2 separate regions of the Homo sapiens genome follow, and region 1 is linked to region 2. Evidence: fine-mapped expression QTL. A gene starts in region 2. The other region holds a variant in brackets. All regions are shown on one strand. Distances are from middle to middle.

The links. PIP is the estimated chance that this variant, and not a neighbour inherited with it, causes the effect. A credible set is the group of variants that fine-mapping cannot tell apart.
Region 1: its variant is the best candidate, but not a certain one, in a credible set for the expression of CASP8AP2 in whole blood (INTERVAL, PIP 0.53).

What each region holds. Positions count from the first base shown.
Region 1 is chr6:89,889,496-89,893,887 of GRCh38, forward strand. No RefSeq gene overlaps it. Among named protein-coding and RNA genes, the nearest start is that of GJA10, 2.8 kb to the right of the region's middle. The variant CTTTTTT/C (reference allele first, on the strand shown) is at 2,487.
Region 2 is chr6:89,827,166-89,831,557 of GRCh38, forward strand. CASP8AP2 (caspase 8 associated protein 2) reads left to right here and starts at 2,715. Exons shown (of 10, transcript NM_012115.4): 1 at 2,715-2,941. RefSeq lists a silencer at 2,065-2,114 and an enhancer at 2,215-2,404.

The DNA.
Region 1 (4,392 bases), 62 kb after region 2:
AAGATCTGAAATAATATGCAGAAAAGGGCCATCAGCATTTTACATAGGATATGCTAAATTTGTATTTGATAATAAAAGAAAATTCAGTAATATTTCTAAGACCCACATTCATTTAATGGTAAAAAGTAGTTATTTTTAGAAAACGGACTAGTTGTCTAAAGGACAAAATGTCTTGTATTCTAGTATGTAAGATTGTATTTTTGTTTTTCGTATAGGCTAAGCTCGGTTTTCCTTTCCTTGCTATTTAAAAATAATAATTTCCACATTTTAAAGAGATAGTGGCAAAAAGAAGTATTATATAGTTTAGTACTGCCAAATAGGAATAAGATTGACATAAGTTAGCTTTCCCACCTCAGGGTTTTTATATAAAATAGAAGCTATAGATTTTTTTTAAGTGCTAAAGGAATCCTTTATTTTTTTTCCGGATCTCTACCTGCAGAGGAAATCCCTTTTTAAAATAAAGAATAATGACCAGAAAGTTTTAAGAGAATAATTATGGGAAAAGACCAAAACTTTAAGACAGGATAGAACTTAGTAAATTATTGCTTTTGGTTAATGAGGTCTGAGTCCTCATTTTAATATCTAATTTTTATTTGCAAGTAATATAAATGACTGCATTCTTAATTTTTGAATCTCAAACAATTCACAAGTATATAGAGTAAATTATAAAAGTCTCATTAATACCTCTTCCAAATTCTGAGAGGTATCTACCACTTTTTCAATTTCATTAAAAAATTATTTATATTTATATACGTACATACAGGTAAAAATGTACATAAACATACACTTTTGATAAAAATCACTTATGCTTTCTTAGAAGTCTTTTTTCCTTTCCTTTCTCTTTTTAGCCTCTCTTTTTTCCACCTTAACTTCCCGTCCACTCTCATCACCTTCAACAGCTCAGGTAACCTATATTAAATTCCTGGTGTGTATCCTTCTGCATTTTTTTCTCCATGCTCAATTAAATCACATACATATATATCTCATATACACATGCATACATATACATGTACATTTATAGAATTTTGTTTTACTGAGTGATTTACAATTCCACACTGAATCTTTGGATTAATTTGGGAAGAATTGACATCTTTACCTATATTGCAATTTTCAATCCCTGAGCATGGTATATCACCATTAAATTAAATTAATTTATATAGTGGTGTGTTTGTGTGTGTGTGTGTGTGTGTGTGTGTGTATTTGGCATTGTCAACTATTCCCCTTCTTGAAACTCTGGCTTTGGGCTTTGGTTTCAGAGACAGCACCCTCATGATTTTCCTCCTCTTTCTCCTTGGCCATTTCTCATATTTATTTGTAGATTCTTTTGTGGGGAAAAGAAAGAGATCAGATTGTTACTGTGTCTGTGTAGAAAGAAATAGACATAAGAGACTCCATTTTGTTCTGTACTAAGAAAAATTCTTCTGCCTTGAGATGCTGTTAATCTGTAACCCTACCCCCAACCCTGTGCTCCCTAAAACATGTGCAGTGTCAACTCAGAGTTAAATGGATTAAGGGCTGTGCAGGGTGTGCTTTGTTAAACAAATGCTTGAAGGCAGCATGCTTGTTAAGAGTCATCACCACTCCCTAATCTTAAGTACCCAGAGACACAAAACACTTCGGAAGGCCTCAAGGACCTCTGCCGAGGAAAGCCAGGTATTGTCCAAGGTTTCTCCCCATGTGATAGTCTGAAATATGGCCTCGTGGGAAGGGAAAGACCTGACCGTCCCCCAGCCCGACACCTGTAAAGGGTCTGTGCTGAGGAGGATTAGTAAAAGAGGAAGGAACGCCTCTTTGCAGTTGAGATAAGAGGAAGGCTTCTGTCTCCTGCTCGTCCCTGGGCAATGGAATGTGTCGGTGTAAAGCCGATTGTATCTACTGAGATAGGGGAAAACCGCCTTAGGGCTGGAGGTGGGACATGCTGGCAGCAATACTGCTCTTTAAGGCATTAAGATGTTTATGTATATGCACATCAAAAGCACAGCACTTTTTTCTTTACCTTGTTTATGATGCAGAGACATTTGTTCACGTGTTTACCTTCTGACCTCCTCTCCACTATTAACCTATTATCCTGCCATGCCCGATAATGATCAATAAATACTAAGGGAACTCAGAGGCCGGTGCTGGCGTGGATCCTCCGTATGCTGAATGCCGGTCCCCTGGGCCCCTTTTTCTTTCTCTATACTTTGTCTCTGTGTCTCTTTCTTTTCCAAGTCTCTCCTTCCACCTAACGAGAAACACCCACAGGTGTGGAGGGGCAACCCACCCCTTCACTCTTTCTTCCTCTATATTAGTCTCAGGGTTCTGTCATTGTCTCACTTTTTCTTTTTGTCTCTGAGGGATCTTCTCTACTTATTCAATGATAATTCATAAATGTTTATCTCCTGTTTGTACCATTTTTGTTGTCGTTGTTCTCTAGACCCAGATACCTTCTGGACAGCTCCACCTTTGCCATTCAGTTTTGCTGGTAGAATCTGTATTTTCTTTTT[CTTTTTT/C]TTTTTTTTTTGAGGAAGGGTCTCACTCTGTCACCCAGGCTGGAGTGCAGTAGTGTCATTATGGCTCCCCGCAGCCTCAAATTCCTGGGCTCAAGTGATCCTCCCACATCAGCCTCCCTAGTAGCTAGGACTATAGGCACTCACCATCATGCCTGGCTAACTTTTTACATTTATTTTTTGTAGAGACAGGGGCCTCACTATATTTCCCAGCCTGGTCTGCAACTCCTGGGCTCAAGCAGTCCTCCTGCCTCCACCTCCCAAAATTCTGGGATTACAGGAGTGAGCCACCATGCCCAGCTAGAATCTGGATTTTTTTCTAATTATAATTTCTGGCACTAATGTGCTTAAAAAGCCTTCTACTTCAAGATTACAAAACATATTCTTTTATAATTTATTTTAATACTTTTATGGTTTACTTTTTTACAATTAATATTATGTTCCATCTGGAATCAATTGTTGTGTTTGGAGATAAGTTGGAAAAAAATCTAAGAATTCCAGGTTTTTCTCTCTTTTTCTTTTGGTTGATATTCATTTTTGTATTATCAGTATTGATTCATTTTATAGGTTAGTGGGAGTCCTTAGTGATCAAGTACTGTGAGGTCTGGGACCAAATATATTTTGTTATTGAATTCCTGGCATCTAGCCCAATGCCTAAGCGATAGCAAGGTTTGATTTATTTTATTTTATTTTATTTATTTTTTTGAGGCAGAGTCTTGCTCTATTGCCCAGGCTGGAGTACAGTGGCATGACCTTGGCTCAGTGCAACCTCCGCCTCCCAGGTTCAAGCGATTCTCCTGCTTCAGCCTCCTGAGTAGCTGGGATTATAGGCGCACAGCACCACACCTGGCTAATTTTGGTATTTTTAGTATAGACGGGGTTTCACTATGTTGGCCAGGCTGTGTTCAATCTCCTGACCTCATCATCCGCCCGCCTCAGCCTCCCAAAGTGTTGGGATTACAGGCATGAGCCACTGCGCCCAGCCAATAGCAAGATGTTAGCAAATATTACTGAATGAATGAATTATGGAAGGAGAGAATTGTTTCATTATCTTTTTTTTTTTGAAACAGAGTTTCACTCTTTTGCCCAGGCTGGAGTGAAGTGGCGTGATCTCAGCTCACTGCAATCTCTGCCCCCTGGGTTCAGGTGATTCTCCTGCCTCAGCCTCCTGAGTAGCTGGGATTACAGGCGCGTGCCACCACACCGGCTAGTTTTCCTATTTTTAGTAGAGACGGGATTTCACCATGTTGGCCAGGCTGATCTCGACCTCCTGACCTCAGGTGATCCACCCACCTCAGCCTCCCAAAGTGCTAGGATTACAGGCATGAGCCACCACGTCCAGCCTCATTATCTATTTTAACTTAATAATACTTTCCTATTTTTCCTCTGTATCTTTCTTATCTGGAAGTCTTCCATATCTTAGAAAGCTTTAACCTACTAAGTATTTTAACCTTATTGAACCTTGAAAAACATTAGTTTTTCAGGATAAACCAAGTAACCTGTTCATGTCAGCTATACCTGTATTGTTTCCCAGATCCTAAGCTTGCTAGAGAAGCAGTTTATATTCACTTTTCTTCTAAGTTAGCAAAAATTCCATGAAAACATGATGTTCCAGATGTGGCTTAATGGATGTAATTATGTGTTATTGCTGGTATTGTTTCTGTGTCTGCCTAATCTTTACTGCTACCCTGATATGAGCCAGTTCCTGAGGGTTTGACTGATTTGTATTTTCTTTACCTATACTTTGTCTTGCAGTGAAAGCCCTGGATAATATATCATGAGGATCTACTTTATTTTGCCTATTGATGGTTATTTTGGTGATAGGGTCAAGGAACAGAATTTTAAAGTGAAAAGACAATTCCATTGACTATTATATATTGACGCCTTGTGTGTGCGATGACCA
Region 2 (4,392 bases):
ATTTAACTCAGTCTTTGAATATGTGAAACAGTTACATGGTTCAAAAGTGAAAGGTTATAAAAATACAAACTCAAAAAGTAATTAATTAATTTAGTTTTTATTTTTCTCACCCTGTCTTATGGTGCTGAAAACTCAACAGTTTAATTGGGGCCAGGCACAGTGGCTCACATCTGTAATTCCAGTACCTTGGGAGGCCCAGGCATGAGGATTTCTTGAGCCCAGGGGTTCAAGGTTACAGTGAACTACGATTGTGCTACTGCACTCCAGCCTGGGTGACAGAGGCAGACTGTGTATCTAACACCCTCCCACACCCAACTTATTTGGGTGAATTATATAGTATGTAAATTATATCCCAGTAAAGCTCTTATTAAAAAAATTAAAGCCGGCCAGACACAGTGGCTCACGCCTGTAATCCCAGCACTTTGGGAGGCCGAGGCGGGCGGAATACCTGAGGTCAGGAGTTTGAGACCAGCCTGGCCAACACGGTGAAACCCCATCTCTACTAAAAATACAAAAAACATAGCCAGGCCTGGTGGCAGGTGCCTGTAATCCCAGCTACTTGGGAGGCTGAGGCAGGAGAATCACTTGAACCTGGGAGGTGGAGGTTGCAGTGAGCCGAGACCGCCCCATTGCACTCCAGCCTGGGCAACAAGAACAAAACTCCAACTCAAAAAAAAAAAAAAGTTAATTAATTAATTAATTAAAAAAAAGCCATGCATATGTGCAAATAAAAATACATAACTTAGGTGGAGTGGCTCATACCTGTAATACCAGCACTTTGGAAGGCAGAGGTCGGAGGATTGCTTGAGGTCAAGAGTTGGAGACGAGCCTGGGCAACAACATGGCGAGACCCTGTCTATATTAAAAAAAAAAAAAAAAAATGAAAGAAAGAAAGGCGAGTGTGGTGTTGTGTGCCTGTGGTCCCAGCTACCTGGGAGGCTGAGGTAGGAGCATTGCTTGAGCCTAGGAGTTTGAGGATGCAGTAAGCTATGATCACACCATTGCACTCCAGCTAGGACAACAGACTGAGACCTTGTCTCTAAAAAAATAATAAAAATAAAGCCAGGCGCGGTGGCTCACGCCTGTAATCCCAGCACTTTGGAAAGCCGAGGCGGGCAGATCACCTGAGGTCAGGAGTTTGAGACCAGCCTGCCCGACATGGCGAAACCCCATCTCTACTAAAAATGCAAAAAACTAGCCAGGCAGGCCCCTGTAATCCCAGCTATTTGGGAGGCTGAGGCAGGAAAATCGCATGAACCCCGGAGGCGGAGGTTGCAGTGAGCTGAGATCACACCACTGCACTCCAGCCTGGGTGACAAGAGTGAAACTCCGTCTCAAAAAAAAAAAAAAAAGAATAAAAATAAAAATAAATTGGTTGATATGGCAGTTAAGACTAAATGGGGTCAGGTGCAGTGACTCACACCTGTAATCCCAGCACTTTGGGAGACTGAGGTGGGAGGATTGTTTGAGCCCAGAAGTTCGTGACCAGCCTGGGCAACATAGCAAGACCCCATCTCTACAAAAATTTTAAAAAATTAGCCAGGGGTGGCCGGGCGTGGGTGGCTCACGCCTTTAATCCCAGCACTTTGGGAGGCCAAGCTGGGCAGATCACCTGAGGACAGGAGTTCAAGACCAGCCTGGTCAACATGGCGAAACCCTGTCTCTACTAAAAATACAAAAATTAGGTTGGCGTGGTAACACATGCCTGCAATCCCAGCTACTCGGGAGACTGAGGCAGGAGAATCACTTGAACCCCGGAGGCGGAGGTTGTAGTGGGTCGAGATCGCGCCATTGCACTCCAGCCTGGGCAACAAGAGTGAAACTCCATCTCAGAAACAAAACGAAACAAAACAGCCAGGGGTGGTGGTCGCTCGCGTCTATGGTCCCAGCTACTCTGGAGGCAGAGGTGGGAGGATCTCTCGAGCCTTGGAGGTGGAGGTTGCAGGGAGCCGAAATCGCTCCACTGCGCTCCAGCCTGAGCGACAAAGCGATACCCTGTCTGAAAGCAAAAAGAAAAAAAAAAGCTAAGTGGACAAACGAGGAAATGGGTAGGGATGAATATAGGCAGACTATAAGTAGCCGAGGAAGGTGGCCTTATTTTCGCACCTATCAATGCTCAGGCTGAGCTCCTGAGGCTAGACCTACCGGCACCCCCCATTCCTACAGGTTCTATAAGGCAAGTCAGGTATTCCACCCTGTAAAAAGCTCTTCTCTCTCCTGCCCCGCTAGACTAGTATCCCCTCCTTAAGGCTCCCAACATCCGAAGCTAAGTTGTTTGTCTGCCTATCATCCAGGAACGCGTCTGAGGGCAGGGAACAAATTTATTCATCGTAATCGAGCCCAGCACTTTGTCTCGCACGCAGCTGACAGCAGAATTTTAAGATAAAGTATTAAATAAATGACAGACCTCTCAAGGCTTCCTGTCTTTCACTAAAAAGCTTCTCTCAGGCCACGCCCCTACCTCCACTCAGGTCAGCCCCTTCCTATTGAAGCCCCGCCCCATCGCCTTCCCCGCCACCTTACACCCCGCCCCTCTCTCTTAAAGCCCTAGGAAGATTACTGGAGTTTGGCGCCAACCGTGTTTTTTTTTTTCCCTTCCAAAGGCGGGAACTAGTTGTGGGCGCTGCGACGTGCTTTGCGTCTGATATGATTGGCCGTAGGCACTCAGTCCCGCCTCCATACCCTGATAGCGCTCTGGTATTGGTGGAGATGCCAGGGAGACCTCGGTGGGCAGAAAGGAACCGGGTTGTCTTGGGCCGGGCAGGGCGGGTAAGTTGTCGTAGGGGCCCGGTCCGTGAGGGACTGCTAAGGAAGAGGCTGCATGGCGCGGTAGTCCCCCGAGTGGAGGTCGGCTGCCCCTGGGAAACCAGAGAGTCGGAGGGAGTCCATCTGGAGCGGCCAAGTAGGTCGGGGAAGGGCCGCGCCTGACGTCTGGCCGCAGGTAGCCACGTTCCCTCCGCCCCCGGTGCAGCTTCAGGGCTTGCACCCTGCGTCCCTCTGTGGTCCTTCGAGAGGGTCTGGGCGGGGACTATGGGTGGGCGCGCCCAGGAATTGTCCCTTCGGCCTCTCGTCCTGCCCCTCCCCCCCACCATCCAGTCTCTCCTTGGAATATACTCTTAAAATCTTTCGGATGGAGTTCTTTGGAGAAATGGGTTTCCTGGAGTGTCAGGTGATCATTGATGTTGATTGTTTCTGAAATGTTTATTTAGGCATCAAACCAACATGCCTAAATAAGTTTTTCATTTCTACAGCGCCTAGATTCATTCCTAGCACATAGTAGGCCCTAACTCAGATGTGAATGTAGGATTCGTAGGAGCTGAGCATTTGTGCTTCAGGCATCAAGTTGTCTTTGACTCTTCGACTCTTCCTTGGTCTTTTTCCATTCTCCACACCTCCAGCAGCAAACCTTTCGCCTCTCCTCAAGGCCTTTCCCCCCCATCTCCCTCAGCGCCTCTTTGACTGGAGGGGGACAGAGGCTTTCATGGCAGGGATTCTCCCATCTCCCTTCCTATCCCCGCTATGCCCTCCAATTATCTTTTCCTGGCGTTCCGTTTTACAAGAGATGGCCTTCTTTCCAAAAACATTTATATTGTATTGAATATTCTTGATTTTGGCCATCTTGCTTTACAGACAGACCTGGGGTCTAATTTCAGCTCTGCCACTTACCAGGTGGTTGCCTTGTGCAAATTTCTTGATCGTCTGTGTTTTCCTCATCTGTAAAATGGGGAAAAGAATAATATGGACCTCATAGAACTCTGGGGAGGATTTAAACTAAGTGAATAATGTATTTAGATCATTTAGGTTAGTGCCTGGAACATAGTAAATGTGCCGTATATGATAGCTTTTGTTAGTATTTGCCCCTTACCTCTTCTTCTGGGGTCTTGCTGTATTAGCCTTTCCCATGAGTGTAAAAATACACTGTCTTCTCTGGCTTTTTCCTGTTTTTCTCTACAAATGCTTGTGTTTTTCTCTAAATTTTATTTTTTGTCTTTTAGCGTCTACATTAAGGACACATTCTCAGTTTCGTAATGATTTTTCTTTTTCTTTTTTCCTTTTTTTTTGAGACTATAGCCCAGGCTGGAGTGCAATGGCAAGATCTCGGCTTACTACAGGTTTGACCTCCTGTGCTCAAGCAATCCTCCCACCTCAGCCTTCCAAGTAGCTGGAACTACAGGTGTGCACCAGCATGCCTGGCTAATTTTTGTATTTTGTAGAGACTGGGTTTTGCCATGTTTCCCAGGCTGGTCTCGAACTCCTAGGCTCAAGTGATCAGACTGCCCTCAGCCTCCCAAAGTACTGGGATTACAAGTGTGAGCCACCCCGCCCAGCCACATTCTCTCAATTTTAAAAAGAAAACTTCCTTCAGACTGCCTATAACGAAAGGCTATGTGA